Linked DNA regions of Homo sapiens. The protein of the gene in region 2 interacts with the protein of the main gene of each other region in a biochemical or structural test. Each region holds a gene or a part of one and is shown on either strand. Other genes may lie near its edges. The genes, in order: USP29, CLSPN, CSNK1G3 and TIPIN.

Region 1 (7,579 bases), on a different chromosome or scaffold from region 2:
ACAGGTGCACTACTGCTCAAGGGAAGAGGTGGTTTGGTGCTTTCATTGCAATAAGAAGATAAACTTAAAGATTTGGGAATATAAACTTGCTCGTTATTCTTCACCAGCAACCAAGCATTGTTGAAGCTATAGCGTTTCAGATGAATGATAAGGACCCTGGAGAGCCTACTAAATGTATGCCTTGCAACACAACTCTTCTGCTTACACATCTGACAGTTATATTCAAGCTCTTCTTCTTTAAAGAAAAGATCTAAAGAATTCTGAATGGACAAAGGAAGTGGTTTTGTTTCTTGGTGCAGGTTGATGGAGAGATAATTATTAGGTTCTACCTTGAGAACAGCATGACCACAAGCTTTACAAATAAGGGAGAGCTGCAATTCAAACTCAAAATTAGCAACAACAGGGCAAACAAACACTTTGGTGGCAGCACTACCAACATGCATTTGTGGAGATGAATTTTCATCCCCACATTCTTTCCCAGTATTCAAAGTGGCATTTAATTTTTCCATGTCTTCTTTCAGCTGGTCTAAACACTGACCTAAAAACTCATGAGCATCATTCTGCATGTTGCCAGAAAATATTTCTGCAACTGCTGAAATGACTTTTTTAACATTCCCAAGTAATTCTCTCTTGATCTTTGTACTACAGAAATCTTTCAAAGCAAGCAGCTGGGTCAAGGTCATAATAAGAGCCTCAAAGGGAATATATTCCCATGGGACACCTTGAGTGAGTAAGTCATCAGCAAAAGATGGAATTGCAAATAGCGATTGTAAAACTGCATTCATGTAACAGGTGTTTCCCAAATTGGGGAACCCCTGCTGCAGTTGCTGTGAATGAGAGTCAAGAGGCACCTGGGCTTTGTTGCATCTTGGGTCACCCTGGCTGTGCTCTGGTTCCAATGGAGATGTCAAACCATTTTTGGCATTGAGAGTCTGGGTTGCAAGAACAGTCTCATCTAGGTTAGGATTTCCATTACAGTTGGTATTGAATGAAGGCCCGAGTTTCAAATCTCTATCTTTTTCTAAATCCTCTAAACTTGATGGGTTCTTCCTATTGCTTTGTATATATTTCAAGGAATCTGTCTTATATTTCTTGTTTGGTACAGGGTTATCTTCCTTCAGAATGTCCTCATTTGTCTGTACATCAGATGATAGTGTGTTTTGCCCCTTCCCACCTTGATTTTCTAATATCCCCTTTTTCACATGTGTTGGTGATTTTGACATAAACAAAGGCATCTTCTGATAACTTGGCTTGTTACAAATGCTGTAAAATGAAGTTTTGTCAATTTCCTTCAGCATATTCCTGCTTTCAAACACACTCCAATCATCATCAGATTTCATGGGTTGCTGAGATTTGTTTTGGTGGATTATGTCCAGGAACATATTCAACTGTTTAGCATCTCTGTAGGATAATTTGTCAATAAACAAGAACACGTTGTTTTTCAAAGTTAAACGCAGGTGACTTTGTCTTTTTTTACAATGTCTAAGGACCACACTTCTAATGTTGTTGCTCAGCTGAAAAATTCTTATAAATTTTCCAGATTTGAAAGTGACCACCAGTTTAATTTCCTTTTGTCTTTGCACTGTTTCAATGAGAGCTTCTTTCAGCTTAGTCATCCCAGTCTTCTGGCTCCAAATTTGGATGAATCCACATACCTTTAGAGATATCATCCTTTCTTTATGTAACCTAAAGAAGAAAAGCACACATGCATTTTAACCAAGAATATATTAACAGTTATATTTTATGAAAAACCTCATCCACATATAATAATGATTTATTTTTAGTCTTCTTATGCTCTAAGTAAAATACTCTTTTGGGGTGCTAATATTCTGAAGCTGTGCCAGTTCTCCAGAAGACATAGACTGAGGCACACGCATTTTCAAGGGAGCTGTTAGGCGAGAAAGAATATACAAATGGCCAACAGAGATATGAACAGGTGCTCAGCATCACTGCTCATCGAGAAAATACAAATTTGGTTGGGCATGGTGGCTCACGCCTGTAATCTTAGCACTCTGGGAGGCCAAGTGGAAGGATCACTTGAGCCCAGGAGTTCAAAACCAGCATGGCAAAATAGGGAGACCTCATCGCTACATAAAATTTTTTAAAATTAAAAAAGGGGCGGGGCCAAGATGGCCAAATAGGAACAGCTCCGCTCTGCAGCTCCCAGCGAGACCAATGCAGAAGGTGGGCGATTTCTGCATTTCCAACTGAGGTACCCAGTTCATCACATCGGGACTAGTTAGGCAGTGGGTGCAACCCATGGAGGGCGAGCAGAAGCAGGGTGGGGCATTGCCTCACCTGGGAAATGCAAGGAGCCAGGGACCTCCCTCCCCCAGCCAAGGGAAGCCGTGAAGAACTATGCTACTCGCCCGGTTACTACGCTTTTCCCACAGTTTTTGCAATCTGCAGATCAGGAGATTCCCTTGTGTGCCTACACCACCAGGGCCCTGGGTTTCAAGCACAAAACTAGCCAGCTGTTCGGGGAGACACCGAGCTAGTTGCAAGAGTTGATTTTTTTTTGTACACCAGTGGTGCCTGAAACCCCAGTGAGACAGAACCATTCACTCCCCTGGAAAGGGGGCTGAAGCCAGGGGGCCAAGTGATCTCACTCAGCAGGTCCCACTCCCATGGAGCCCAGCAAGCTAAGAACCACTGGCTTGAAATTCTCACTGCCAGTGCAGCAGTCTGAAGTTGACCTGGAATGATGGAACTTGGTTGGGGGAGGCGCATCCGTGATTAATGAGGCGTTAGTAGAGTTTTCCCTGGACAGTGCTAAGGAGGGTGGGAGGTTTGGACTGGGCAAAGTTCACCACAGCATGGCAAAGCAGCTGTGGCCAGACTGCTTCTCTAGATTCCTCCTCACTGGTCAGGGCATCTCTGAAGAAAGGGTAACAGTCCCAGTCAGGGGCTTACAGATAAAATTCCCATCTCCCTGGGACAGAGCACCTGGGGGAAGGGGTGGCTGTGGGCACACAGCTTCAGCAGATTTAATCTTTTCTGCCTGCTGGCTCTGAAGAGAGCAGCTGATCCTGATAAGAGGGATTTTCCCAGCACAGCACAACAGCTCTGCTAAGGGACAGGCTGCCTCCTCAAGTGGGTCCCTGACCCCCGTGCCTTCTAACTGGGAAAGAACTCCCAACAGGGGTTGAGAGACACCTCATGCAGGAGAGCTCTGGCTGGCATCAGGCTGGTGCCCCTCTGGGACAAATCTTCCAGAGGAAGGAACAGGCAGCACTCTTTGCTGTTCTGCAGCTCTGCAGCCTCCGCTGGGGATACCCAGGTGAAAAGGGTCTGGAGTGGACCTCCAGCAAACTGCAGCAGACCTGCAGAAGAGGGGCCTGACTGCTAGAAGAAAAACTAACAGAAAGCAACAACATCAACATCAACAAAAAAGACCCCCACACAATAACCCCATCCAAAGATCAACAGCCTCAAAGATCAAAGGTAGATAAATCCACAAAGATGAGGAAAAACCAGCACAACAACGCTGAAAAATCCAAAAAACAGAATGTCTCTTCTCCAAATGATCGCAACTCCTGTTCAGCAAGGACACAAAACTGGACAGAGAATGAGATTGATGAATTGATAGAACTAGGCTTCAGAAGGTGGGTAATAACAAACTCCTCTGAGCTAAAGGAGCATGTTCTAACCCAATGCAAGGAAGCTAAGAACCTTGATAAAAGGCTACAGGAATTGCTAACTAGAATAACCAGTTTAGAGAGGAACATAAATGACCTGATGGAGCTGAAAAACACAGCATGAGAACTTCGTGAAGCATACACAAGTATCAATAGCCAAATCAATCAAGCAGAATAAAGGACATCAGAGATTGAAGATCAACTTACTGAAATAAGGCGTGAAGACAAGATTAGAGAAAAAAGAATGAAAAGGAATGAACAAAGGCTCCAAGAAACATGGGACTATGTGAAAAGACCAAACCTACGATTGATTGGTATACCTGAAAGTGACGGGGAGAATGGAATCAAGTTGGAAAACACACTTTGGGATATTATCCAGGAGAACTTCCCCAACCTAGAACGACAGGCCAACATTCAAATTCAGGAAATGCAGAGAATACCACAAAGATATTCCTCGAGAAGAGCAACCCCAAGACACATAATCGTCAGATTCTCCAAGGTTGAAACAAAGGAAAAAAATGTTAAGGGCAGCCAGAGAGAAAGGTCGGGTTACCCACAAAGGGAAGCCCATCAGATTAATAGTGGATTGCTCCAGAAACCCTACAAGCCAGAAGACAGTGGGGGCCAATATTCAACGTTCTTAAGGAATTTTCAACCCTGAATTTCATATCCAGCCAAACTAAGCTTCATAAGCGAAGAAAAAATACAATCCTTTACAGACAAGCAAATGCTGAGGGATTTTGTCACCACCAGGCCTACCTTACAAGAGCTCCTGGAGGAAGCACTAAATATGGAAAGGAAAAGCCGGTACCAGCCACTGCAAAAACACACCAAAATATAAAGACCAATGACACAGAAGAAACTGCATCAACTAATGTGCAAAATAACCAGCTAGCATCATGATGATGGGATCAAATTCACACGTAACAACATTAACCTTAAATGTAAATGGGCTAAATGCCCCCAATTAAAAGATACAGACTGGCAAATTGGATAAAGAGTCAAGACCCATTGATGTGCTATATTCAGGAGACCTATCTCATGTGCAAAGACATACATAGGCTCAAAATAAAGGGATGGAGGAATATTTGCCAAGCAAATGGAAAGCAAAAAAAAGGATGGGTTGCAATCCTAGTCTCTGATAAAACAGATGTTAAACCAACAAAGATCAAAAAAGACAAAGAGGGCATTACATAATGGTAAAGGGATCAATGCAACAAGAATAGCTAACTATCTTAAATATATATGCACCCAATACAGGAGCATCCAGATTCATAAAGCAAGTTCTTAGAGACCTACAAAGAGGCTTAGACTCCCACACAATAATAGTGGGAGACTTTAACACCCCCCTGTTAATATTAGATAGATCAATATTATCATCACCACATAGCACTTATTTTAAAATTGACCACATAATTCGAAGTAAAACACTCCTCAGCAAATGCAAAAGAACGGAAATCATAACAAACAAGCTCTCAGACCACAGTGCAATCCAATTATAACTCAGGATTAAGAAACTCACTAAAAACCACACAACTACATGGAAAGCCTGGCTTCACCACTTACTGCTTTTGTAACACTAAGGCTGAAACTCAACCCTCCTGAGTCTTACTTTCACATAAGTGAAAATGGGACTGCAACAATAATAACGACTTCTTAGGATAAGTCATTGGGCTAAAACAGCTCAAAATTAATTGTCGACATCATATTCCTATTGCTAATCCTAGGAATATATTAAACTACCTCATATGGAGAAAATTAAGGCTCCATCATGGGAGGAAAGGGAGTTTAGTGACTTTTATTACAGGTTTATTGTTTGTTGTACTACATCACTCTATATGATGCTCCTGAATGACTACTGGTTAAATAACAAAATTAAGGCAAAAATAAAGAAGTTCTGTCTGGGCACGGTGGCTCACACCTGTAATCCCAGCACTTTGGGAGGCTGAGGCAGGTGGATCACCTGAGGTCAGGAGTTTGAGACTAGCCTGGCCAACATGGTGAAACCTGGTCTCTACTAAAAATACAAAAATTAGCCGGGCATGGTGGCAGGCACCTATAGTGCCAGATACTGGGGAGGCTGAGGCAGGAGAATCGCTTGAACCCTGGAGGTGGAGGTTGCAGTGAACAGAGATCTCGCCACTGCACTCCAGCTGGGGAGACACAGCAAGGCTCTGTCTGAAAAACAAAAAACAAAAACAAAAACAAAAAAAAAACAAAAAAGAAAACCAAAAAAAAAACCCCACAAAAAACAGGGAGTAAGGAAAAGGAGTAAGATGGCGAGTTGTTGTGCTAGCTAATTAGCAAAACCGAGGTGGGGAGAGAGACAGAGAAAGGGAAATATGAAGAGTGAAAAAAAAAAAAACATGAAGGGAAAGACATCTCAAAACACAAACAGGTTTCAGAAAAAATAAAAAATATCTCTCTGAATTTGCTCCCTCCCCTTACTCATTTGCCCATTTCTCCCCAGGCAGTGAGGAATGCCTACTTCCTTCCAACATTCCAATTTCAGGAAAAGCAGTGAAATCCCAATGAAACCAACAGAAAAAGTTGCCCTTTGCTACTCACAGTTCTTTCCGAAGAAACTTGAGTCAATTTACTGAAGTTTAAGCTTTGGAGAGCTGTCCATGGTCACACTGCAGGCAGAGCTCTGACTGCCACGGCTGTTACTAGGAAGAAACAAAAAGGTCAGAGTCCTGAAACTGAGGTTTATTTAAAAAGTCTGCACATAGTCCCAACCATCTTTCATGTTAATTTATTGCATTATATCTTAGAAACTGGGAAAACCAACCTTCCTCCAAAGTCGTTTACGTTAATTTAATCTGGGAGAAAACCTCCTGTGTTAATGGGATTATCTCTAAATGCATTCCTAAAAGTGCCCCTCCCCAATTACACAGATTAGATTAATATATCAACTGACTTCACATTCATTGGTTTTCTTGGAACTCTGCCACAACAAGACCTTCTAACAACATTTGTTGTTTGAGAAACCTTATACTTTATGGGTCTCTAACTTAAAGACTAGTTCTGACTTTGCTTACCTAGAACTTTAAGTATCTTTATTTTTTTCTTGTTACAAAGAGGCACTACAGAGAGGATGCATCGAGATCACACATTGTACATTCCAACTTCCAGGATTCCAAGCCCGGCTTCACCGCTTACTGCTTTTCTAACACTAAGGCTGAAACTCAACCCTCCTGAGTCTTACTTTCGTATAAGTGAAAACGGGATGGCAACAATAATAGCGACTTCTTAGGATAAGTCATTGGGCTAAAATGGCTCAAAATTAATTGTTGACATCATATTCCTATTGCTAATTCTAAGAATATATTAAACTACAGGGATGCCTCATATAGAGAAAATTAAGGCTCCATCATGGGAGGGAAGGGAGTTTAGTGACTTTTATTACAGGTTTATTGTTTGTTGTACTACATCACTCTATATGATTTACATGCCTTAATACCATTTAATTCTGCAAGTGACCATATGATATTCAATTTTATTACATTTAACATAGTAAGAAAACTGAGGTCCAAATGCATTATTAATACATTAAGGGACTTTTAGGAGTCACTCAGCTAAAGAAACAGGGATGTGTAATCAGAAATGGCTGCTGTTGATGGGTGCCCACATTTCTTCAATGTAGGGCATGAGCTATACTATGCCAAACCCAGCAAACCATGTGGGAAGCAGAAAATCTTCCATGATTATAATTAATGTGTCCTCAGTTTCCTGAGAGATCCTAACATAATATATAGAGTGTGAAGAAAAGCCCCTCCATTTCATCCTGTTGCTGCTGATAAATTATTGCCTCTTTAGGGAAACTTCACCCTCACTGGACCTTAAATTTAATGAAAGGAGGAATCACAAAAATTAGAGATCATCAGCTTTTCCCTGAGCTGAGTTCAAAAGACAGGTAGGCTTCATCATTTTCATTTTGG
Region 2 (7,579 bases):
TTTGCCATCTGAAACTCGACAAATATGCATTGTAACTGTTTGCTTTTTTTTTTTTTTTTTTGAGATGGAGTCTCGCTCTGTCGCCCAGGCTGGAGTGCAATGGCATGATCTCTGCTCACTGCAACCTCCGTCTCCCGGGTTCACGCAATTCTCCTGCCTCAGCCTCCTGAGTAGCTGGGATTACAGGCGCGTGCCATCACAGCCTGCTAATTTTTGAACTTTTAGTAGGGACGGGGTTTCACCATGTTGTTCAGGCTGGTCCTGAACTCCTGACCTTGTGATCCACCTGCCTCTGCCTCCCAAAGTGTTGGGATTACAGGCGTGAGCCACCATGCTCAGCCCGTAACTGATTGCTTTTAAAGACAACAACCAAGATACCTATGTTTTTCCATCGAAACTTCCTCATTCGCCCAGGACCATCGCTGTGCAGATCCCCATCAGCAAGGTACCTCTCTTGGTATAAACGTAGCTGTCGCTTATCATCATCCAACATAGTTTTCCTGCAACAGGAGAAATAAGGTGTTCAAAACAAGGACCATTCTGGCTGGTTACAGGGCTTGTCTTAAGATGTACCCTATTACTCAGAAGGGCTTATTGGGATACTGACATGTGTATTTTCTTGATTTGACTCTGCAGTTCCTCATCAGAAGGAAGTACTTCATCAATTACGTCCTCTTCATATTCATCAATTTCTTCCCCATCATACTCATCTTCGCTTCCCACATCACTTCCTGACACCTCTGCCTCATCCTCCAGGTATTTCCTCAACCTCCTAGAAAGCAATTTTGAGGATTAGAAAATGCAACAATGAATATACTCACAGAATATGGAAGCAAAGAAAAGCAGAACAGAGTCACTTCTAATAATAATAAACATAATACATTTGATAATATTTAAATTTTTTTGTAATAGTCTCCACTTATGATGGTTTGACTTAATGATTTTTCAACTTTACGATGACATGAATGTGATACGCACTTAGTATGCTTCTCGATTTACGATGGAGTTATATCTGGATAATATGAAAGTGCATTTTCAACTTATGATGGATTGATCAGGATATAGTCCCATTGTAAGATGTGGAGCATCTGTATTTAAAAGTTGATCACTTAATATGTCTTGTGTGCTAATAACTGTGCTTTACAGGCATTAACATATTATCATAGGAATGGGTACTATTATTCTCTTCATTTTACAGTTGAGGGAATTGAGCCTCAGAAAGATTACATTTACCCAAGGTCACATAGCTAGAAGGTAGCAGAGCCTGGATTCAACTTAGATTGGGTGATTTGAAAGCCAGAAAACTCTTAATCTCTTTTACATGTATTAGAATACCTGCTGGAAGGTTCAAACTATTTCATTTTGCATTTGAGCACACCAGCTTTAAGAGACAAACTAGAGATGGTGTGGTGTAGAAAGGTAATAAACTGGGATCTTCTTACAGCCTAACAAATCTTGACCCCCACATCAGAAGGAAGACTAAGGCTCAGAGCTCCTGGTAATCAAAACGACTAGTTACTTCTTATGACTTCAGCTCCCCCGGAGAATAAATCTGGTGTCACCCTGGATTCAAAGTCACCTTGGTCCCATGTGGTCCAAAATGGCAGAAGTTTGGTGGCTTTCTGAAAACTGATTTTTATCGAAGACCTATACTGTATTTTCTCTTTTTTTTTTTTTTTGAGATGAAGTGTCGCTCTGTCGCCTAGGCTGGAGTGCAGAGATGCCATCTCGGCTCACTGCAACCTCCACCTCCTGGGTTCAAGTGATTCTCATGCCTCAACCTCCCGAGTAGCTGGGATTACAGGTGCGTGCCACCATGCCTGGCTAATTTTTGTTTTTTTAGTAGAGATAGGGTTTCACCATGTTGGCCAGGGTGGTCTTGAACTCCTGACCTCAGGGGATCTGTCCATCTCAGCCTCCCAAAGTGCTGGGATTACAGGCATGAGCCACCACGCCCAGCCTATACTGTATTTTCTTAAAGCTAAGTTGTTCTAAATCCTAGAGTTCCTGGAAAATTCCTTCAGAGGCCACTAGTCACTAAGTTTCCCAAACTTCCCACTTACCATCTTTGAACAGTTCAACTTTTATCTGTCATTCTTTAAAAGATTTTATTTGAACAAAGAGCTCTGCAGAGAAGAACCACTACCTTAGAAAAATCTATGGATAACCTAAAGCTGTATGAGAGTTAATTTGATAGGTGATAAATTAGAACCCAAAGTGAATCTTAATAGAATGAAATGATGGGATAAAAGCAACCATATAAATCTAATAGGGATCAATATGATGTCCTATATGTGAATTCCAAATCATTCACATACAATATAATATTAAATACCTATTAGAATTATCTTTATAAAACTTTTTTTAACATCATAGGAAAATGTTTCTGGATATGCTAAGTAGAAAAAAAAAGATGCAAAATTATACATATAGAAAGATTGTACAAATCTCAACTATATAAAAATATATGCATAAAAAAGATTAAGGGGAACAAACTAACTTTCATTTATATCCTGGATGGTGGACATGGATAAGTTTTTATTTATATCTTTCTGTATTCTTTTTTTGCGGGGGTCGGGGAGAATGGAGTTTCTCTCGTCGCCCAGGCTGGAATGCAATGGCACAATCTCAGCTCACTGCACCCTCCACCTCCCGGTTCAAGCGATTCTCCAGCTTTGCCTCCTGAGTAGCTGGGATTACAGGCACTGGCCATCACGCTTGGCTAATTTTGTATTTTTAGTAGAGACGGGGTCTCGCCATGTTGGCCAGGCTGGTCTCGAACTCCTGACCTCAGGTGATCCACCCGCCTCAGCTTCCCAAAGTGCTGAGATTATAGGCGTGGGCCACTGCACCCAGTTTGTATTCTTTTAAATATCCTAAAATAAATATTTTACTTTCATGACCAGAACAGCATATCAAAAAAATGAGTTGGGCCGGCCAGGTGGGGTGGCTCACGCCTGTAATCCCAGCATGTTGGAAGGCCAAGGCGGGTGGATCGTGAGGTCAAGAGATCGAGACCATCCTGACCAACATGGTGAAACCCCGTCTCTACTAAATATACAAAAATTAGCTGGGTGTGGTGGCACGTGCCTATATTCCCAGCTACTCAGGAGGCTGAAGCAGGAGAATCGCTTTGAACCCGGGAGGCGGAGGTTGCAGTGAGCCGAGATCATGCCACTGCCCTCCAGCCTGGGCGACAGAGCGAGACTCCGTCTCAAAAAAAAAAAAAAAAAAAAAAAAAAAAGCTGGGCCTGGTGGCTCATGCCTGTAATCCCAGACTTTGGGAAGCAGAGGCAGGAGGATCACTTGAGGCCAACAGTTTAAGACCAGCCTGGGAACAAAGCAAGGCCCCATCTCTACAAAAAATAGAAAGAATTAGCCAGGTGTGGTGGCACATGCCTGTTGTCCCAGCTACTTGGGAAGCTGAGGCAGGAGGATTTAAGTTAAAAAGTGGCAAACTATTAACTGACTGTTAGGGGAGATTTCACCTAATCTAAGTTGAATCCAGCCTCTGCTGCCTTCTAGCTATGTGATCTTGGGTAAATTTAATCTTTCTGAGGCTCAGTTCCTTCAACTGTAAAATGAGGAGAATAATAGTACCCACTCATAAGATAATTTTTTTGAGATGGAGTCTTGCTCTATCACCCAGGCTGGAGTGCAGTGGGGCAATCTTGGCTCACTGCAACCTCCGCCTCCCATATTCAAGCAATTCTCCTGCCTCAGCCTCCCAAGTAGCTGGCACTACAGGCGCCCAGAACCATGCCTGGCTAATTTTTGTATTTTATTTTGTATTTTGTATTTTTAGTAGAGAGGGTTTCACCATGTTGGTCACGCTGGTCTCAAACTCCTGACCTCAAGTAATATGCCTGCCTTGGCCTCCCAAAGTGCTGGGATTACAGGCGTGAGCCACTGTGCCTGGCATAAGATAATATGTTAATGCCTGTAAAGCACAGTTATTAGCACACAGGACATATTAAGTGATCAACTTTTTTTTTTTTTTTTTTTTTGAGACAGAGTCTCGCTCTGTCACCCAGGCTGAAATGCAGTGGTGCGATCTCGGCTCACTGCAACCTCCACCTCCTGGGTGCAAGCGATTCTCCCTGCCTCAGCTTCCTGAGTAGCTGGGACTACAGGCACCTGTCATCACATCTGGCTAATTTTTATATTTTTTAGTAGAGACAGGGTTTCACCATGTTTGTCAGGATGGTCTCGATCTCTTGACCTGTGTCACCAAGACCAGGCTGGTCTTGAACTCCTGACCTCAGGTGATCCGCCTGCTTCAGCCTCCCAAAATGATGGGATTACAGGCGCAAGCCACCATGCCTGGCCTAGTGACCAAATTTTAAATACACCTGAAGGAATGGACATATTAATAACACGTACATTTGCCTTTTCAACTTCTCAGATCGCTTCAGGAGTTCTTCTTCATCATCATCTTCATGGTCTTCCAGTGCCAGATCATTACCAGAGTCACTGTGTTCATCCTACAAAATCAGCATCATATCCAAATTAAGCAGAATAAAATGCGTCCTCAATGAAAAAAGGATTTATAAACATCTGCCCAAATACCTCATTCTAGGAAATTGTTTCTGATAAGATGCCAAACTTAGAATTCTCAAGAACTGAGGGGAAAAAAACACTTGAGGGCAGCAATACATGGAGCTCAGTTATGATTACTTTGTTCCCTTCATACTCACCTCATCACTATCAAACTCATTATCATTTGAAACAAGCCGAAAGTCTCCAAATTCCTCCTCCTCGTCTTCCTCTTCCCTAAAATGTAAATCAATGAATCAATAAATAAGTTGTTGAAAGCAAACTACAAGTAGTCAGCCAAGTTATGAATTAAAAAAAATTTTGTGTGTGTTAATTTTTTTTTTTTCTCTGAGACAGTCTTGGTCTCTTACACCACCTGGAATACAGTGGCACCATCTCAGCTCACTGTAACCTCCACCTCCAGGGCTCAAGTGATCCTCCCACATCAGCCTCCTGAGTAGCTGGGACTAGAGATACAAGCCACCATGTTCAGCTAATTTTTGTATTTTTGTAGAGACAGATTTCACCATGTTGCCCAGGTTCATCTTGAATTTCTGGATTCAAGCAATCTGCTTGCCTTGGGCTCCCAAAGTACTGGGATTATAGGTATGAGCCACCTCGCCCAGCCAAATTTAAAACTTTTATTATCACCAATAATCTCTTCAATAAACAGGAAGAAAATTTTTTAAATTTTCAATTGTGGTAAAATACACATAATATAAAATTTGCCTTTTTAACGATCTTTCTATAGTTCTGTAGTGTTAAGTACATTCATATTGTTAAGCAATCTCCAGAACTCTTTTCAGCTTGCAAAACTAAAACTCTATACCCATTACACTCTCCATTTCCTTATAACCTCAGTCTCTGGCAACCACCATTCTACCTTCTGTCTCTATGCATTTGACTACTCTAAGTATCTCATGTAAGTGGACTCATACAGTATTTGTCTTTTGGTGACTGGCTTATTTCTTTTAGCATAACATTCTAAGGTTCATCCATGTTGTAGCAAGTGTCAGAACTTCTTTTTTTTTGAGACAGGGTCTTGCTCTGATGCCCAGAGTGCAGTGGCACAATCATGGCTCAATGCAGCATTGACCTCCCAGGCTCAAGCAATTCTCCCACCTCAGCCCCCTGAATAGCTGGTACTGCCGGCACACGCCTAGCTAATTTTAGTATTTTTTTTATAGGGATGGGGTTTTGCCATATTATCCAGGCTGGTCTCAAACTCCTGAGCTCAAGTGATGCGCCCACCTCAGCCACCCAAAGTGTTGGGATTACACGTGTGAGCCACCATGCCCAGCCAGAATTTCCATTTTAAGTTGAATATTCCTTTGCATATATACCGCATTTTGTTTACCCATTCATTTGCCAATAAACATAGGTCGCTTTCATGTTTTGACTACTTACTGTGAATAATGCTGCTTTGAACATGGGGGTGCAAATATCTGTTCAAGTCCTGCTTTCACTTTTTTGGGGTACAGACTAAGAAGTGAAATTGCTGGATCATATGGTCATTCTATTTTTATTTATTTATTTTGAGACGGAGTTTTGTTCTTGTTGCCCAGGTTGGAGTGCAATGGCATGATCTCGGCTCACTACAACCTCTGCCTCCCGGGTTCAAGCAATTCTCCTGCCTCAGCCTCCCAAGTAGCTGGGATTACAGGCATGCGCCACCATGCCCAGCTAATTTTTTGTATTTAGTAGAGACGGGGTTTCACCATGTTGGTCAGGCTGGTCTCGAACTCCTGACCTCAGATGATCCACCGTGCCTGGCCTCTATTTTTAATTTTTGAGGAGCCATCATACTTTCCCTGGCAGCTGCACTATTTTACATTCTCACCAATAGTACACAAGGTTTCCAATTTCTCCACATTCTCACTAACACTCTTGGGGTTTTTCTGATAAAAGTCATCTTAATGGGTGTCTCACTATGGTTTTGATTGGCATTTCTCTATTAATGATATTAAATAGCTTTCATATTCTTGCCTTTTTTACCCTGTTCTCCACCAAAGCATTATAATTTGCTTACTAGGCATATATGAGACTCAAATCCACTGCAAGATTCTCAGAAAAGGTGCAAAGCCCTTAAGATGATCAGTTATTTTGATTTTATCAAAAGGCCAGGCCTTCCCAAATTCCCAGCAATCTGAGACTTACTTGTCTGTGGGAAAAGAGCCTGAGCAAAGAGCAAGTGCTTCTTCCATTGGATCACCCATGCTGCTCTCCTTCTCCTGTTTATTTAACTCTGATGAGGCTGGAGTGGAGGCATCTACATCACAACAAGGAAAAGATGTGTCACCAAGGAATGATAGCTTTATACTCTTTTCCCAGCCATCTAAAGTCATGCCAGCTCGATACAGTTCTAAGGTAAGCTTGCCAAGAAGAGCCTACCATCTATTCATTCAACAAATCCTTATTTAGTGCTTACTATGTGCCATATGTGCCAGGCCACCAGGGATACAGTAATGAACAAACCACTATCCCAGGTCTCATAGAGCTTATGTTCGATCTAGCAGTTGTGTGTATTGGGGGCAGGGAACAGGAAGTAAGTTAACATTTATATGAAATTTATTATACATCAGACACTGTTCTAAACTTTGTACATACATTAATCATAAATGATATATGGGCAAAGCTAAAGCAGTCTTTTTTTTTTTCAAGACTTTTTTTTTGAGACAGTCTCTCTCTGTTGCCCAGGCTGGAGTGCAGTGGCACAATCTCGGCTCACTGCAACCTCCACCTCCGGGGTTCAAGCAGTTCTCCTGTCTCAGCCTCCCAAGTAGCTGCGATTACAGGCACGGGCCACCATGCCCAGATAATTTTTTGTATTTTAGTAGAGACGGGGTTTCACCGTGCTGCCCAGGCTGGTGGCGAACTCCTGAGCTCAGGAAATCCCCCGCCTTGGCCTCCCAAAGTGCTGGGATTACAGGCGTGAGCCACTGCGCCCGGCCTAAAGTAGTCTTAAGTTGATACTTTACCACTCTAAGAAAGTAAGAGTTCTAAATATCAGGGCACTAAGCAGTGAATTCAGTTTATACACAGA
Region 3 (7,579 bases), on a different chromosome or scaffold from region 2:
AACAATGAAATGACACACACTTTTCAAAAGAAGATATACAAATAGCCAATAAATACATGAAACAGATCTCAGAAACAATAATCACAAGGAATTAAAAGACTACCCCTTGGCCACTAGAATAGCTACAATGAAAAAGACTGACAACTCTAAATGTTGTCAAGATTATGAAACAAACAAAATTCTCATTCATTACTGATGGAAATAAAAAAAGGTATGAACACTCCTGAGAACAGACAGGCAGTTTCTTATAAAGTTAAATAATACCTGCCATAGGACCAAACTGAAAAATATGCCCACAAAAAGATTTGTAAGAATATTATACAAGTTTTATTCATAAGTCAAAAACTTAATCCAAATATCCATCAACATTCAAATGGATAAGCAGTTTGTGATATGTTTATGCAATGGAATATTACTTAGCATTAAAAAAGAATAAACTACTGATACTTGCAACAACATAAATGAATCTTAAAGACATTATACCCACCAAAAGAAGTTGGATGGTTCTATTTATATTAAGTAATAGAATCAGCAAAACTCATCTGTTGTGATAGAAATCAGATCAGTGATTGCTTCTAGAAAAGGAGGGGAATGACTAAGATGGGTAAAATGGAAGTCTATAGGATAATGATAGTGTTCTAAATCTTGATAGTGTGTGGGTTACATAGTATGCACATTCATCAATACTCACAAATTATATAATCAAATGTTGTATATTTTACCCAATGTAAATTTTACTTCAATAAAAAAAAAACTCTTCAATAAAATAAGAATTACAAATGTTATAATTCTATTAGACTTGCTATATAAAGTGGTATCATTTGGCAATCTGAAACTACTTTCTGAGTATCCTCAGCTTTTAAAAACAAGTAAATATATTGTAAGTAGTGATAGCCAGATTTCTCACTGTTAAAAAAAAAGATACAAATATGGAAAAGGGATGGAATTACAAATATAGAAAAGGGAAATACTATTTTGTACTGACAGACTGAAATTAAAAGTGTATCAGTATAAACTCAAAATTTTTAACAGATATTAACGTATGTCTCTGTGTGTGTGTATACATACGTATATATGTAGGCATATTTCTATGTGTGTATGTATATACATATATGCACAAACATTTCCTAGTTCTGCTGCAGAAAGGGCCTGGCAGTAACAACATACCACAGTAATGAGCATATCCAGTGGCCAAATCTTGGTTTCTAAATACCATTATCCAATAAAAGGATTCAGAACTTCTTGGAGAAAAGGACTGATTATGGGGCTGCAGAAGAGAAACTACAAGATGAGTTTGTTTATAAGAACTTGCTGCACCAAAAGAAAGAAAGTACTCAAAGATTCATGAGAACATGTCAAAAGGACAGAGAAGCCAGCTTGAAGGAGCAACGGGTGGCCAAATCTGGAACCCTTTGGCTATCAGAATAAATAATGATAATGCATTCAATACATTACATTAAATAAGATAAGAATTAATAAGTTCATATAGACATAAGTCAATAACTGGGGGAGAAGGTAAAGCTTCTGCTGACATTAGAATATCAACTGACAAATAAGGAAATGTAAATATTAGAAATAATGGAGTTAGAAAATCATCAATGGATGCTAAATCTAGAGGGCAAAAATCTGATGAGGAACAACATGTTTACATAATCCCAAAATCTAACTACAAGAAACTTTTCAGTAGAGAAATTTGGCAGATATCGTCCAAGCAAGTGATCCCAACATGATGCACTAAGAACACATCACTTCTGTGATATTTGTGCTCAAAATGCCTACCCAAATCTAGTCAAAAAGAAATAACAGACCCAAATTGGAGATATCCTATAAAATAGCCTGTGCTCCTAAAAAATATTAAGGTCATGAGCCATAACGAACGACTGAGGAACTGTTCCAGATGAAAATGATTTAAGGGATATGATAAATATGAATCTGGGTGAAGGAAGAATGCTATAAAAAATCCTGTGAAGTTGATATTGTTTTACTCTTTTTACCAATAAGAAACCCCTTAAAAAGGTTAAACTTGTCCGAAGTCATAGTTAGCATACAGGTAAGCCAGCTCTGCCCACCTCTAAGGTATATGCTGTTAGCATTATACTTATTAGGCTAGTTGCTATTTCTGTGGCTAGCCATATTGGAGAGCTATGGTCTCAATCCAAAATTTCCACATGTACTGAATTCAGTTAAAATTTGGTATTCTCTCATATTTTGTAAGAGAAATGATTAAATGCATCCCCATAACTGTATCAAAGTTGAACACTTCAAGTTATATAAATACAAAAAATACAGTGAATGTAAAGATAGCTGTCACTCATTTACTCTATAGTAACTTACTTTCAAAGAGTTTTATTAAAATATAAGTGAAAGTAAACTCTAGGTAGATGTGATAAATGAAAATTATAATAAAAGCTATTATAATCTGCAAAAACTGAACCATAACAAATAAAAACTCACAGTGTTAGCACAGCTGCTAAGTTCAAACTTCCATACTTACGAAAGGTACACATACCTTTTCCTAAATGTGTGTTTATGCTCATATATCTAGCTGTTCCTGTAAGGCTCTTGTGTTCTCTGTATGGTATGTGTTTCTTTGTCTCCGGATCAATATATTCCTTTGCCAAACCAAAATCTATAATGTGAATAACTTGCTGGGTTTTGTTTCCTGGTCGTCCTATTAAGAAGTTCTCAGGTTTTACATCTCTGTATATCAAGTTCTTTGAATGGACATATTCCATGCGAGAAATCTTGGTTTAAGAAAAAAAGAAGAGAAGTTTTATTTTGGGCTTTGACTAGCCTAAGCAAGTATGATAAAGGCAAGACAGAATGAAAACATACAAAAGAAATAAATCAGAAATTGTTTCAACCCTTTAAAAGTAAAATGATGTCAGCCTATCATTCTTCACATAGCAAATTGCAATTTAAAATCTTTGCCTTTACTGTTATGGTCACTGCTAAACGAGAGTATTTGAATTTTATGAATTCCTTTCATATCAGCAAGCCTGATTCAATGAACACTTTCAGAGGATGCTACTTCATAAAATCAAAAAGCCACATTGATATAAGACCTTGAACCCAAAAGTATAAGCAGACATATGCAAAACATTGCAATATAATCTTCCTTATCAGTTCAATAACCAAGCAACTTTTACAAGTATATTAAAGAAACTTAAGAGTCTAAACTATTAAGTAAAAACAACAGCACTATTCAGTATCTTTTTCTTTTTCATAACATGTTTCCTTTACTTTTTCCTAGGTATTAAACATTTAAAAATGATTAATCTTGAAGCTAGAAAGATCATAAAGCTAGAAAAGTCTGAAATCCAACTCTAATATTAATAATATAGCTCATTTTTGTTAATTATTTTACAGATTCTCAATGTTCATTGTACAAACTGTCATAAAATAGAGTATTACAAATAAGAAAATAAAACTGCTTCATTTAGTGATAATCATGGTTAACAATGCAATGTAAACATATGGCTACACAGGCCATTCTAGTTTGTTTAACAAACTTTGCAGCATATAATGTACAATATTCTATGTCTATATATTCTTAATTAATGATATGAGCATTTGCAAAGTCATGAAATATTCTTTGTTTTGTTTGGGGGCAGTTGGTTGGTTTTTTGATGTTTTGTGTGTGGGGGCAGGGACAGGGTCTCACTCTGCCACCCAGGATGGAACGCATAGCTCATTGCAGCTTCAACCTTTAACCTCCGGGCTCAAGCAATCCTCTTGCCTCAACCTCCTCAGCAGTTGGGACTACACAAGCACACCACCACACCTGGCTTATTTTTTTTTTTATTTTTATTTTTGTAGAGACAGAGTCACACTATGTTGCCCAGATTGATCTTGAACTCCTGGGCTCAAGTGATCCTCTAGCCTCAGACTCCCCAAAGTGCTGGGATTACAGGCACAAGCCACCACACCTAGCCTATAAAACAATCTTTAATATGCACTTTTTAACAGCTGCATATTTTCCTCTGGATATTAATTTATTCAACTAACCCTGTTATTTCTGCATATTTGGGTTGCTTCTCCTTTTTTTATTATAAACATCCTTTCATATAAAGCTTTAAGTACCTATGAAAACATCCATAGGATAAATTTGTAGAATTAATGAGTCAATGAATAAAAACAATTTTAAGACTTCTGCAGCACACTTCTATTGGCATTTATTTCGAAACTGCCTTAAAATCACTCTCTAATTGTTATCCAACGGATTCCCTGAAGTCTAAGTAGTTTATCAAGACTCTCTCATTAGTCTGCCTCTTGTTTTTCCAGGTCATAAAGTCTATTACCAAAATTAAGAATCCATGTTTCTGGCCCGGCACGGTGGCTCACGCCTGTAATCCCAGAACTTTGGAAGGCCAAGGCGGGCGGATCACAAGGTCAGGAGATCGAGACCATCCTGACTAACATGGTGAAACCCTGTCTCTACAAAAAATACAAAAAATTGGTCGGGCGTAGTGGCATGCACCTGTTGTCCCAGCTACTCGGGAGGCTGAGGCAGGAGAATTGCTTGAACCCGGGAGGCAGAGGTTGCAGTGAGCCAAGATCTCGCCACCGCTCTCCGCCCTGGACAACAAAGCAAGACTCCGTCTCAAAAAAAAAAAAAAAAATCTATGTTTCTGAGGGTTCTCTTTTGAAGTAATCATCTTTTATATGAAGAAATGGCTAGCAACAACTTAATTTGCAAACTGAGCATTTTGATCTTAAAGCAATTATTAGTTTTTATACAAATAAAATATACTTGACTCAGTTATTTTAAGTTACATGGATCCCAGAAAGACAACATGAAAAGTAGAAACATTTGTATTACGTCAAACGCTCTGTAAGACAATATCACAGAACTTTAAACTTTTAATATGAATTTGTGACCAACAACCATGTAATTGTTCAAACAACTTCAAATACCTTATTTTACTTACCAGTTGTATAGCTATCATGAGAACTGTTTTAAGAGAAAATGTTCTGTCACACAAGTCAAACAAGTCTTCCAAACTAGGTCCCAGCAGTTCCAGCACCATAGCATTGTATTTACCACAAGGGCCGAAATAGTAAACTTGAGGTATACCATCTGGGGGAAAAGAAATACTCATTTAATAATTTCATCATCTTAAATACTAAGGTTTTCCTCTTAAAAACTGATATTTAAAATTTTATAGTTTCAAGAACTAAAGCAGTACTATCACTTTTTCCAGATACATACTTTTCCTGACCAAACCTCCCAACCTCCCAATACCTTCTCTTTGATGTTCACATTGTAGCCTGGATACACCTCTATTGCAGCTGCATGACTGAATTACATTATAAACAGTACTTCATTGTTTCTCTCTACCACCTTATTACTGGACAAAAGCTGGGCTTTTTAGCTTTATATTTCCATGGCCTGGAGAAAGGCTTAGCACATAGGAGAGATTCCAGTTCTACTGAAAAGAGAGTCACTACTGGCTTTAATAACCATGTGATAGGCATACTGCTAAGATCACCACTGTCAAGATTCCCATCCTCTGGCTTATACACCTTGTATAAACCCCTCCCTTTGAACGTGAGCATGATTCCTGGGATCTCACTATTGTGACCAGGCTAACTTATACGGCAAATGTAATTAAGGCTCCTATCAGTTGACTGTAAGTTGATCAGAAGGAAGAGAATCCTGGTGGACCTGACCTATTCAGGTGAGACTTTAAAAAGATAGTCTAGAAGTCAGAGATATTGGAAACAGCAGAGAAACTCTCCTGCTGGCCTTAAAGTAGCAAACCACCATGCAGTGGAGGGAGCCACATGCCAGATAGGAATCCTTGAGGAAGTAAGGGCCACACAGTTCTATTGCCATGAGGAATTGAATTCTGACAAGAATCAGTGAACTTGGAAGAGAGCACTGAGGCTCATGTAAGATTGCAGTCCAGGCTTACACCTTAATTTCCACATGGTAAGACTCTAAACAGAAGACCCAGCAAAGCCATGCCCGTATTCCTGACCCATAGAAATTGTGAGATAATAAAGTCTTTCATCTTAAGCCAGTAAGAGATAGTAATAATTCATTATGAAGCTATATAGAATAATACAAACTCCAAATATGAAGTCTGAATAATACAAACTCCAAATATGAAGTCATCTGTATTTTATTTTCAGAACTAACAGACTCCCAATAAACTGAAATGTAAGTGATCAATTTACTTTATATGGAAGTTGTCAGAATCAAAACAGAGTCACTTGTATTAAAACCCTGACAAACAGAGCTAGGGAAGGAGATGAAGGGAGGGTTCTCACACATATATATATATATGCCTGATAAGAAGAACTACCACAAAAGACTGCAAAAACCACAACCTGGAACAAAAGCCACCACAACTTTACAAAAAATTACTCTGTGAGGACATCTGCCCAGGAACTGCCTGTCCAACTTCAGACTGAGGCCATTCTTGTTAATGATCCTTGTAGCCAAGGGTAACTCTCTCAAAACAACTTATGTGACCCTCCTCATTTTTCCTTTAAAAACTCTTGTCTTCCTTTACCTCCCTGAATATACTCACATATATTCCCATTGTAATGCCCACTCGTAAATAACTATCATTTTCTTTTAGACAAGTCTCCCTATTATTTAGTTTGACACTTAACACTGCATTTATCTATTAGCATGAAAAAATGAACTTCTTCCACCACAAATGTCTCAGTTTTACTTCCAAGTGATTTTTTTTCAGTATATTGAAAGAGAAAACAAATCTAATGAAAACTTCTCATTCTTTTTAATAAAACGTTTTTTAAATATAACATTATTATTATTTACCCTATTATTTTGAATATAAATCATTGCAGGACAGAATAGAAAACACTGAACTAAAAACCAAGAAAACTACATTCTTAGTCTAACCTAATATTCATCAGCTGTGTGGCTAGCTTGTCATTCAACCTCTCAAGTGGGCCTCAGTTTACTTATCTATTATAATATTAGTGATTTGGATGAGACAAGTATTTCTCAGATATGAATATGAGTGAGGCAGCAGAACATCTGCAGGTGGGAATGTAAGCTAGTGTAATCACTGTAGTCCCAGCTACTCGGGAGGCTGAGGTAGGAGAATCACTTGAACCCAGGAGGCGGAGATTGCAGTGAGCCGGGACTGCGCCACTGCACTCCAGCCTGGGCGACAGAGCAAGACTCCTTCTCAAAAAAACAAAACAAAACAAAACAAACAAACAAAAAAAGATAGTGTAATCATAGCAGGAATGGATACAAATTCAAACTGCATACATGGTGCCCTCCCCAGAAACAGAGATTCTGATACACCCCAATGTGTATGTATCACCACCCCCTGCAAACACACACACATCACACACGCTTGTCCCATCTCCTCTTGCTACTGGGAATCAAAGACACTCCTACCACAGCCACTCTTAGATGTATTTGTCATATCTACCCCTCACATGTGTAAAGGTGGAGAAAAGGTTCAGAAACAGGGAATGAGAGGCTTGTTAAGTTTATTCCAACTCTAAAATCCTGCTTTTACAATGCTATATACATTAAGAAGCTGGAGATGCAATTAAGATTTACAGACAGCTCTCAGCTACCACAACA
Region 4 (7,025 bases), on a different chromosome or scaffold from region 2:
TTTTAAATGTGTTTACATATTGGTCTTCTAGGTAAGGTTTCCTGAATGGGAAATTATCCTCAGGTTGATAACTCGAAAGAATGTTTTTCAGTACTGCCTTACTTAACTTCTCAATAACAACTGACACTTTTGGTCAGTTTTTTTCTGGGAAAAATGTTTACCTTAACTTCTAAGACATGCCGGTAATCCCAGCAGGAGGCAGAGGCAGACGGACCATGAGGTCAGGAGTTCGAGACCAGCCTGGCCAACACAGTGAAACCCCGTCTCTACTAAAAATATAAAAAAAATTTAGCCAGGTGTTGTGGCACGCACCTGTAGTCCCAGCTACTCAGGAGGCTGAGGCTTTCCTCCCTTTCTGGGCACTCCTCCTGGATTTTCTTTGCAGGTTTATCTTCTACCCCGGCCATTAAGTATCCAAGACTCCATCCTAGGGCTTCTTCATTCATTTATGCACAGAGCTTTAATAAGTACTGATTTATAGATGACTCCCTGATTTTTATCTCTACCCTAGGCCTTGACTCTGCGATCCAGATCACTACTTCCCATTTTACACTTCCTAAACGCCTGAAAGGCACCTGTAACTCAGCAGGTACAAAACCAAACTTCTAAATTTTCCTAACTCATTAAATGACATCTATCCAGCTATGCAATTCAGAAACCTACAAGTCATCTTTAGCAATTCCTTCCCCTATCCCACAGATCCTGCCCATCTTATTTCCTAAATATCCCTTGAATCTGTCTATTTCTCCTTATCTCTATAACCACTTCCCAACATTTCTTGCTTGCATTACTCCACTACTCTCATCCACTCGTCTCCTTCAATTGTCCCTATTACATCTAGACTGAATCTGAAAATATAAAGCTGATCACCTCACTTGGATTAAGTATTTCAATGGTTTCTGATTGCTCTTAAGATAAAGACAAAACTTCAAGGCCCTGTGTGATCCAGCCTCTTACTACCTCACCAGTCTCACTTCACACTACTCTATGCTTTTTCTTTCCTTGAAAGAGCTATATCCCTCAGGCCACTGGCTCTTTACAAATACTATTTCCTGTCTTGAAAAAGCTATTCCTTGACTCCTAATATCTTCCAGATCTCAACTATCACCTTTTCAAAAGTTTACCTCAATTTCTCTAAATCCTTCTTTAGTAAGCATTCATAGTGTCAAGTACAAGTGTCATGGCACTTATCCAGTTTCAATATCAGGTTTTATTTATACAGTTATTTATTGTTCGTCTCCCAAACTAGACTGTAGCTCAAAAAGGGCAACGAGGTTAAGTCTCTCTGTGTTACACAGCTGGAACCCCAATGCTGTTACACAGCAAGTGCTCAATATATATCTTTTTTTTTTTTTTTTTTTTTTGAGAAGGAGTCTCGGGCTCTGTCACCCAGGCTGGAGTGCAGTGGCGCGATCTCTGCTCACTGCAAGCTCCGCCTCCCGGGTTCTCGCCATTCTCCTGCCTCAGCCTCCCGAATAGCTGGGACTACAGGCGCCTGCCACCACGCCCGGCTAATTTTTTGTATTTTTCATAGAGACGGTGTTTCACCGTGTTAGCCAGGATGGTCTCGATCTCCTGACCTCGTGATCCGCCCGCCTCGGCCTCCTAAAATGCTGGGATTACAGGCGTGAGCCATCGCGCCCGGCCCCAGGTGCTCAATATATATTTGATGAATGATGGAATGCAAAAAAAAATTCCAGTTTCCCCAAATTGGAGTTAGACGATCTTTAAAATCTCACTAATTCTAAATTTCGGTTACCATAAATATAAAAGCAAAGCATCGGCTGGGCGCGGTGGCTCACGCCGGTAATCCCAGCACTATGGGAGGCAGAGGCGGACGGATCATGAGGTCAGGAGTTCGAGACCAGCCTGGCCAACACAGTGAAACCCCATCTCTACTAAAAATACAAAAAAAATTAGCGGGGCGTGGTGGCACACGCCTGTAGTCCCAGCTACTCGGGAGGCTGAGGCAGGAGAATCATTTGAACCCAGGAGGCGGAGCTTGCAGTGAGCCGAGACCGCGCCACTGCACTCCAGCCTGAGCGAAAGAGCGAGACTCCGTTTCAAAACAAAAACAAAGCATCAATTCCTGATCATGACCCACTGTAACTTCAAGCAAGCTACAAGAATCTATACTAGGGTTCAGACCTTTGAGGCTGACAGCGAGCTTTGAGTTTGATGACAGTACCTAAAATATATTAAGTGTACTCAGGAACTGGCCAAGCATGGGGTGGGGCTTGTCAGGAAACTGGTATTTCTTTCTTCTATTTGTAGTGAATAAGATGCTCAATAGACGACTTTTACTCCTCGTCAATGGTCGCATAACTGTCTCTTTTTAGACACTTATGAAATTGTCTGAACTTCCTCCTCTACTTCTCCAACTCCCAGAAGAGTGAAGGTAACAAATGTTATGTCCAAACCACGGTTTGTTCCCAGACCCTGGTTTCCAATGCCCACCTCTTTTCCAAGAAGTCCAAAGAGACGCCCCTCATCGCAAAGGAAGTGCTACCGTGCTGCCTCGATGTCCCCCTTGGGTGCCATCCCTGAAACATCGAACCTCCCATACCTCTTCTCCAGCCGTCCCCCTCATCCTCGTTCCCCGCCTACCCTCTCTTCAACTTCATTCATTCATCCAACATTCGCTGGGGGATTTCTACATTGACACGCCCCGGACAGAAGCCTGGGGTAAAGATGATCAGGAACACGTTCCCTCCCGCTAAGCGGCTTGGCAGAGTAAGAGGCATCCCAAAACCTAAGCAACCGGGACACGCGCCCACCTCCCCGCCTCTCCAGGCCGGGTCAGGTCGACCCCCCAACCTCCTGACCCCCTTCCTGCGACAATTAGGCTTTCCCGCTAGTCTGTCTGGCTCCCTGGCTCTTCCATCTGGCTCCCTGGCTAGTCCGACTCCCCTCTCCCCGCAAGAACTTCATTGGCCCGCCAGCCAGCTCTCACCTCACGCAGAAAACACGGGACACAGCGCGGACCTCGGCGTGCAGACTAAGCGCGCTTCTCGCGATACTCGGGAACTCCTGGGGCGAGAAGGGCCCGCAGCGTTTGGCGCCAAATCCGTGCGGGGGGCTGGGCGGAGCCTGCAAAACCCGCCTCTCAGGTTCCGCCCAGCACGCCGGTCCCGCCTTCGGTCCCACAATTTCCGCCCTACTGAATTCTTCAGAGGAACTCAGTTAAGCCTCCTTATTTGCATAAAGTTAATACTTGTTATTCTGGGGTTTTTCTTTTTTTTTTTTCTTGAGACTAAGTCTCGCTCTATCACTCAGGCTGGAGAGCAGTGATTCGATCTCGGCTGACTACAGTCTCTACCTCCCGGGCTGAAACGATCCTCCCACCTCAGCCTCCCTTCCCCGACTAACACCACCACACCGAATTTTTGTTTTAATGGGTTTTTGTTTGTTTGTTTGTTTGTTTTGCAAAGACGGGGATTAGTTGCCCAGGCTGGTGTCGAACTCCTTAGCTCAAGCGATCTTCCCACCTCAGCTTCCCAAAGTGCTGGGATTACAGGCGTGAGCCACTGTGCCCGGCACTTTAAACCTTGGAAATAGGTCTCGGTTTTTGGAAAACTGAGTTGTGGGAGGAGGAAAAAGGACAGAGGCAAGCAATAGTGAATAAGAAATTACCGCTTCTTCAGAGTTCATAGCAGAATGCTTCGAACTCAGAGTTTTATGAATTGTTTATTGAATAATAAGCTGAGAAAAGAGGTGGTAAAGAGAGGAAAAATAGGGCTGAACATAGACACTGGCCAGGTGCGGTGTGGCTCGCCTGTAATCCCAGCACTTTGGGAGGCCCAGGCAGGCGAATGGCTTGAGCCCAGAAGTTGAAGGCGGCAGTGACTAGGATCGCACTGCTGGCGATCCAGCTGGAGATCCAGTCTGGGTGACAGTGAGATCTTGTCGCAAAAAAAAAAAAAAAAAAAAAAAAAAAAGCGAGAGAGTGTGAATGTAAACAAAAAAAAATGTCAAAAATATGTTACTTGGGGCCGGGTGCAGTGGCTCACGCCTGTAATCCCAGCACTTTGGGAGGCCGAGGCGGGCAGATCACGAGGTCAGGAATTCGAGACCAGCCTAGCCAACGTGGTGAAACCCCATCTCTACTAAAAATACAAAAATTAGCCGGGCGTGGTGGCGCGCACCTGTAATTCCAGCTACTTAGGAGGCTGAGGCAGGAGTATCACTTGAACCTGGGAGGCAGAGGTTGCAGTGAGCTGAGATCATGCCATTGCACTCCGGCCTGGGCGACGGAGCAAGACTCTGTCTCAAAAAAAAAAAAAGTTATTTGGTCAGACTTGGTGGCTCATGCCTGTAATCTTAGCACTTTGAGAGGCTGACGCAGGAGGATTGTTTGAGCCCAGGAATTCAAAACCAGCCTGGGCAACATACTGAGACCCTGTCTCTATTAAAAAGAAAAAACATTTTTTAAAAAGTTAACTTTTCCATTTTTAAATAGTAAGTCCAAATATATTTGTATTTGTTTGTATACACACAAACATACACACACAACCTCAGAAAAATATATAACTAGAACCTATGCAATGAAAGTGGCATATGGGATAGAGTGGGATGGGAACTTAACTATAATTTTTTTTGAACATACAAATGTATTAACTATTCAAAAAACTAAATTTAAAAATGTTATCTGAAGCAAATATAGCATCATTAAGATTTGCCAAACCTAGAAGATAATTAGGGAATACTGGCAGCATTATTCTCTCCACTTTTCTTTCTTTCTCTCTGTCTTTTTTTTTTTTTCTTCTTTGAGATGGTCTCACTTTGTTGCTGAGGCTGGAATGCAGTGGTGCGATCACAGCTAGAATCAGGTGATCCTCCCTCCCCAGCCTCCCAGGTAACTGGCACTACAGGCTCGCACCACCACACCCAGCTAATTTTTTAAATTTTTTGTAGAGATGGGAGTTTCGCCATGTTGCCCAGGCTGGTCTCCAACGCCTGGTCTCCAGCGATCCTCCCCTCCTCAGCCTCCCAAGGTGTTGGGATTACAGGCGTGAGCCACCGCACCCAGCTACTTTTCTGTAGCTTGAAACATTTTATTAAAAATTTAAAAAGTGAAGCCAGGTGCAGTGGCTCACACCTGTAATCCCAGCACTTTGGGAGGCCAAGGTGGGTGGATCACCTGAGGTCAGGAATTCGAGACCAGCCTGGCCAACATGGTGAAACCCCGTCTCAATAAAAATACAATAATTAGCCAGGTGTGGTGGGTGCCTGCCTGTAATCCTAGCTACTCGGGAGGCTGAGGCGAGAGAATCGCTTGAACCCAGGAGGCAGAGATTGCAGTGAGCAAGATCACACCACGGCACTCCAGCCTGGGTGATATAACTAGACTCTGTCTCAAAAAAAAAAAAAAATTTAAAAAACACTGGGTCCCGGATGTCGAGGCTGCAGTGAGCCATGATCATGCCACTGCACTCCAGCCTGGGTAACAGAGTGAGACCCTGTCTCAAAACACACACACACACACACAGACACACACACACACACACACACACAAAGATAGAAAGTAAATTACCAATTCTGTCTAAAATTATGTGTGCACATGTATCTATGTGTCACATTTCCTTTATTTTATGATTTTATTTCTATACTTGTGAGATAATATATATTAATATTAAGCAATTAATAAAATTAACATAAATTTAGTTTTTTTTGTTTTTGAGACAGATTCTTATTCTGTCACCCAGGGTGGAGTGCAGTGGTGCAATCTTGGCTCACTGCAGCCTCAATCTCCTGGGTTCAAGAGATTCTCTGCCTCAGCCACTCGAATATCTGGGATTACAGGCAGGCACCACCATTCCCGGCTAATTTTTGTGTTTTTTGTATTTAGTAGAGATGGGGTTTCACCATGTTGGTCGGGCTGGTCTCAAACTGACCTCAAGTGATCCATCCACCTCAGCCTACCAAAGTGCTGGGATTACAGGCGTGAGTCACCTCACCAGGCCTAAAAGTTACATGAATTTGAATGAGAAATGTCCATTTCAGTAGTCTGAATTGTTGAGACAAGAGGCATTCTTTTAATTATCCAGGTAAGTTTATATACTATACTTTTTGACTAATAAAGTAAATGTAAAAGCACTCTGAGAAGTTAAAAAAAGTTATACACCTTCCCCACGCCGCCCCCAGCCTGCCAAAAACGAACAGAGCAGATACTGATACTCTTGAAGGTTTAAATCTCAGTTCCGTCATTTACTGGTTGGTGACTTTTAACTCTGATTCAGTTTCCTTTTTTTATTTTTGATCACCTGAGTTGGAGTGCAGTGACACAATCATAGCTCACTGTAACCGTGAACTTCTGATCTCAGGTGATCTTCCTAACTAGGCCTCCCAAAGTCCTGGGATTATAGACATGAGTCACCCCGTCTAACCCAGTTTCCTCATAGGGTTGTAAAGAGGAGTAAAAAACCATATTTAATGGTATGTTACTGTAGTATCGCAGGTACTTCAGAGTCTGAGGCAGGAGGATTACTTGAGCCCAGGAGGTCAAGGCCAGCCTGAGCAACATAGGGACATCCTATCCCTAAAAAATAAAAATAAAAGTAAAAGACATTAATACATTTTATATAACTATCCATATGATTTTTGGAATGTTTCACCCTTTCAGAAAATGTAAAGATTTTGGCCGGGCATAGTGGCTCACACCTGTAATCCCACCACTTTGGGAGGCTGAGACAGTAGGATTGCTTGAGTCCAGGAGTCCCGGACCAGCCTGGGCAACATGGTAAAACCCCATCGCTACAAAAAAGCAGGAAAAGAAAATGTAAAGATTTTGTTAACTGTTTGTTGTTTTATCTGAGTTACAACCACAGTTGTCAGTCATTGATATTGTCAATAACTAATTGTCCACCGGATGCAGTGGCTCCCGTCTGTAATCCCAGCACTTTGGGAGGCCAAGGCAGGTGGATCACTTGAGGCCAGGAGTTCAAGACCAGTCTGGCCAAAATAGTGAAACACCGTCTCTACTGAAAAAACAAAAATTAGGCCTGATGCAGGTGGCTCAGGCCTGT

The links.
Region 1: of the proteins of CLSPN (region 2) and USP29, one has a biochemical effect on the other in vitro, tested with the Homo sapiens proteins (one study listed by BioGRID).
Region 3: of the proteins of CLSPN (region 2) and CSNK1G3, one has a biochemical effect on the other in vitro, tested with the Homo sapiens proteins (one study listed by BioGRID).
Region 4: the proteins of CLSPN (region 2) and TIPIN form a complex in vitro, tested with the Homo sapiens proteins (one study listed by BioGRID).

The regions. Positions count from the first base shown.
Region 1 is NC_000019.10:57,122,767-57,130,345, reverse strand, and holds part of USP29 (ubiquitin carboxyl-terminal hydrolase 29), read right to left. Parts: intron 6,308-7,579; 5' UTR 6,207-6,307; intron 1,687-6,206; 5' UTR 1,671-1,686; coding exon 1-1,670.
Region 2 is NC_000001.11:35,738,758-35,746,336, forward strand, and holds part of CLSPN (claspin), read right to left. Parts: intron 6,806-7,579; coding exon 6,694-6,805; intron 4,820-6,693; exon of another isoform or gene 4,774-4,819; coding exon 4,698-4,773; exon of another isoform or gene 4,485-4,697; coding exon 4,384-4,484; intron 773-4,383; coding exon 608-772; intron 501-607; coding exon 379-500; intron 1-378.
Region 3 is NC_000005.10:123,570,894-123,578,472, reverse strand, and holds part of CSNK1G3 (casein kinase I isoform gamma-3), read right to left. Parts: intron 5,081-7,579; coding exon 4,932-5,080; intron 2,745-4,931; coding exon 2,510-2,744; intron 1-2,509. UniProt on the Homo sapiens protein: Serine/threonine-protein kinase. Casein kinases are operationally defined by their preferential utilization of acidic proteins such as caseins as substrates. It can phosphorylate a large number of proteins. Participates in Wnt signaling.
Region 4 is NC_000015.10:66,353,686-66,360,710, forward strand, and holds the start of TIPIN (TIMELESS-interacting protein), read right to left. Parts: upstream 3,001-7,025; 5' UTR 2,954-3,000; exon of another isoform or gene 2,458-2,953; intron 437-2,457; exon of another isoform or gene 313-436; intron 1-312.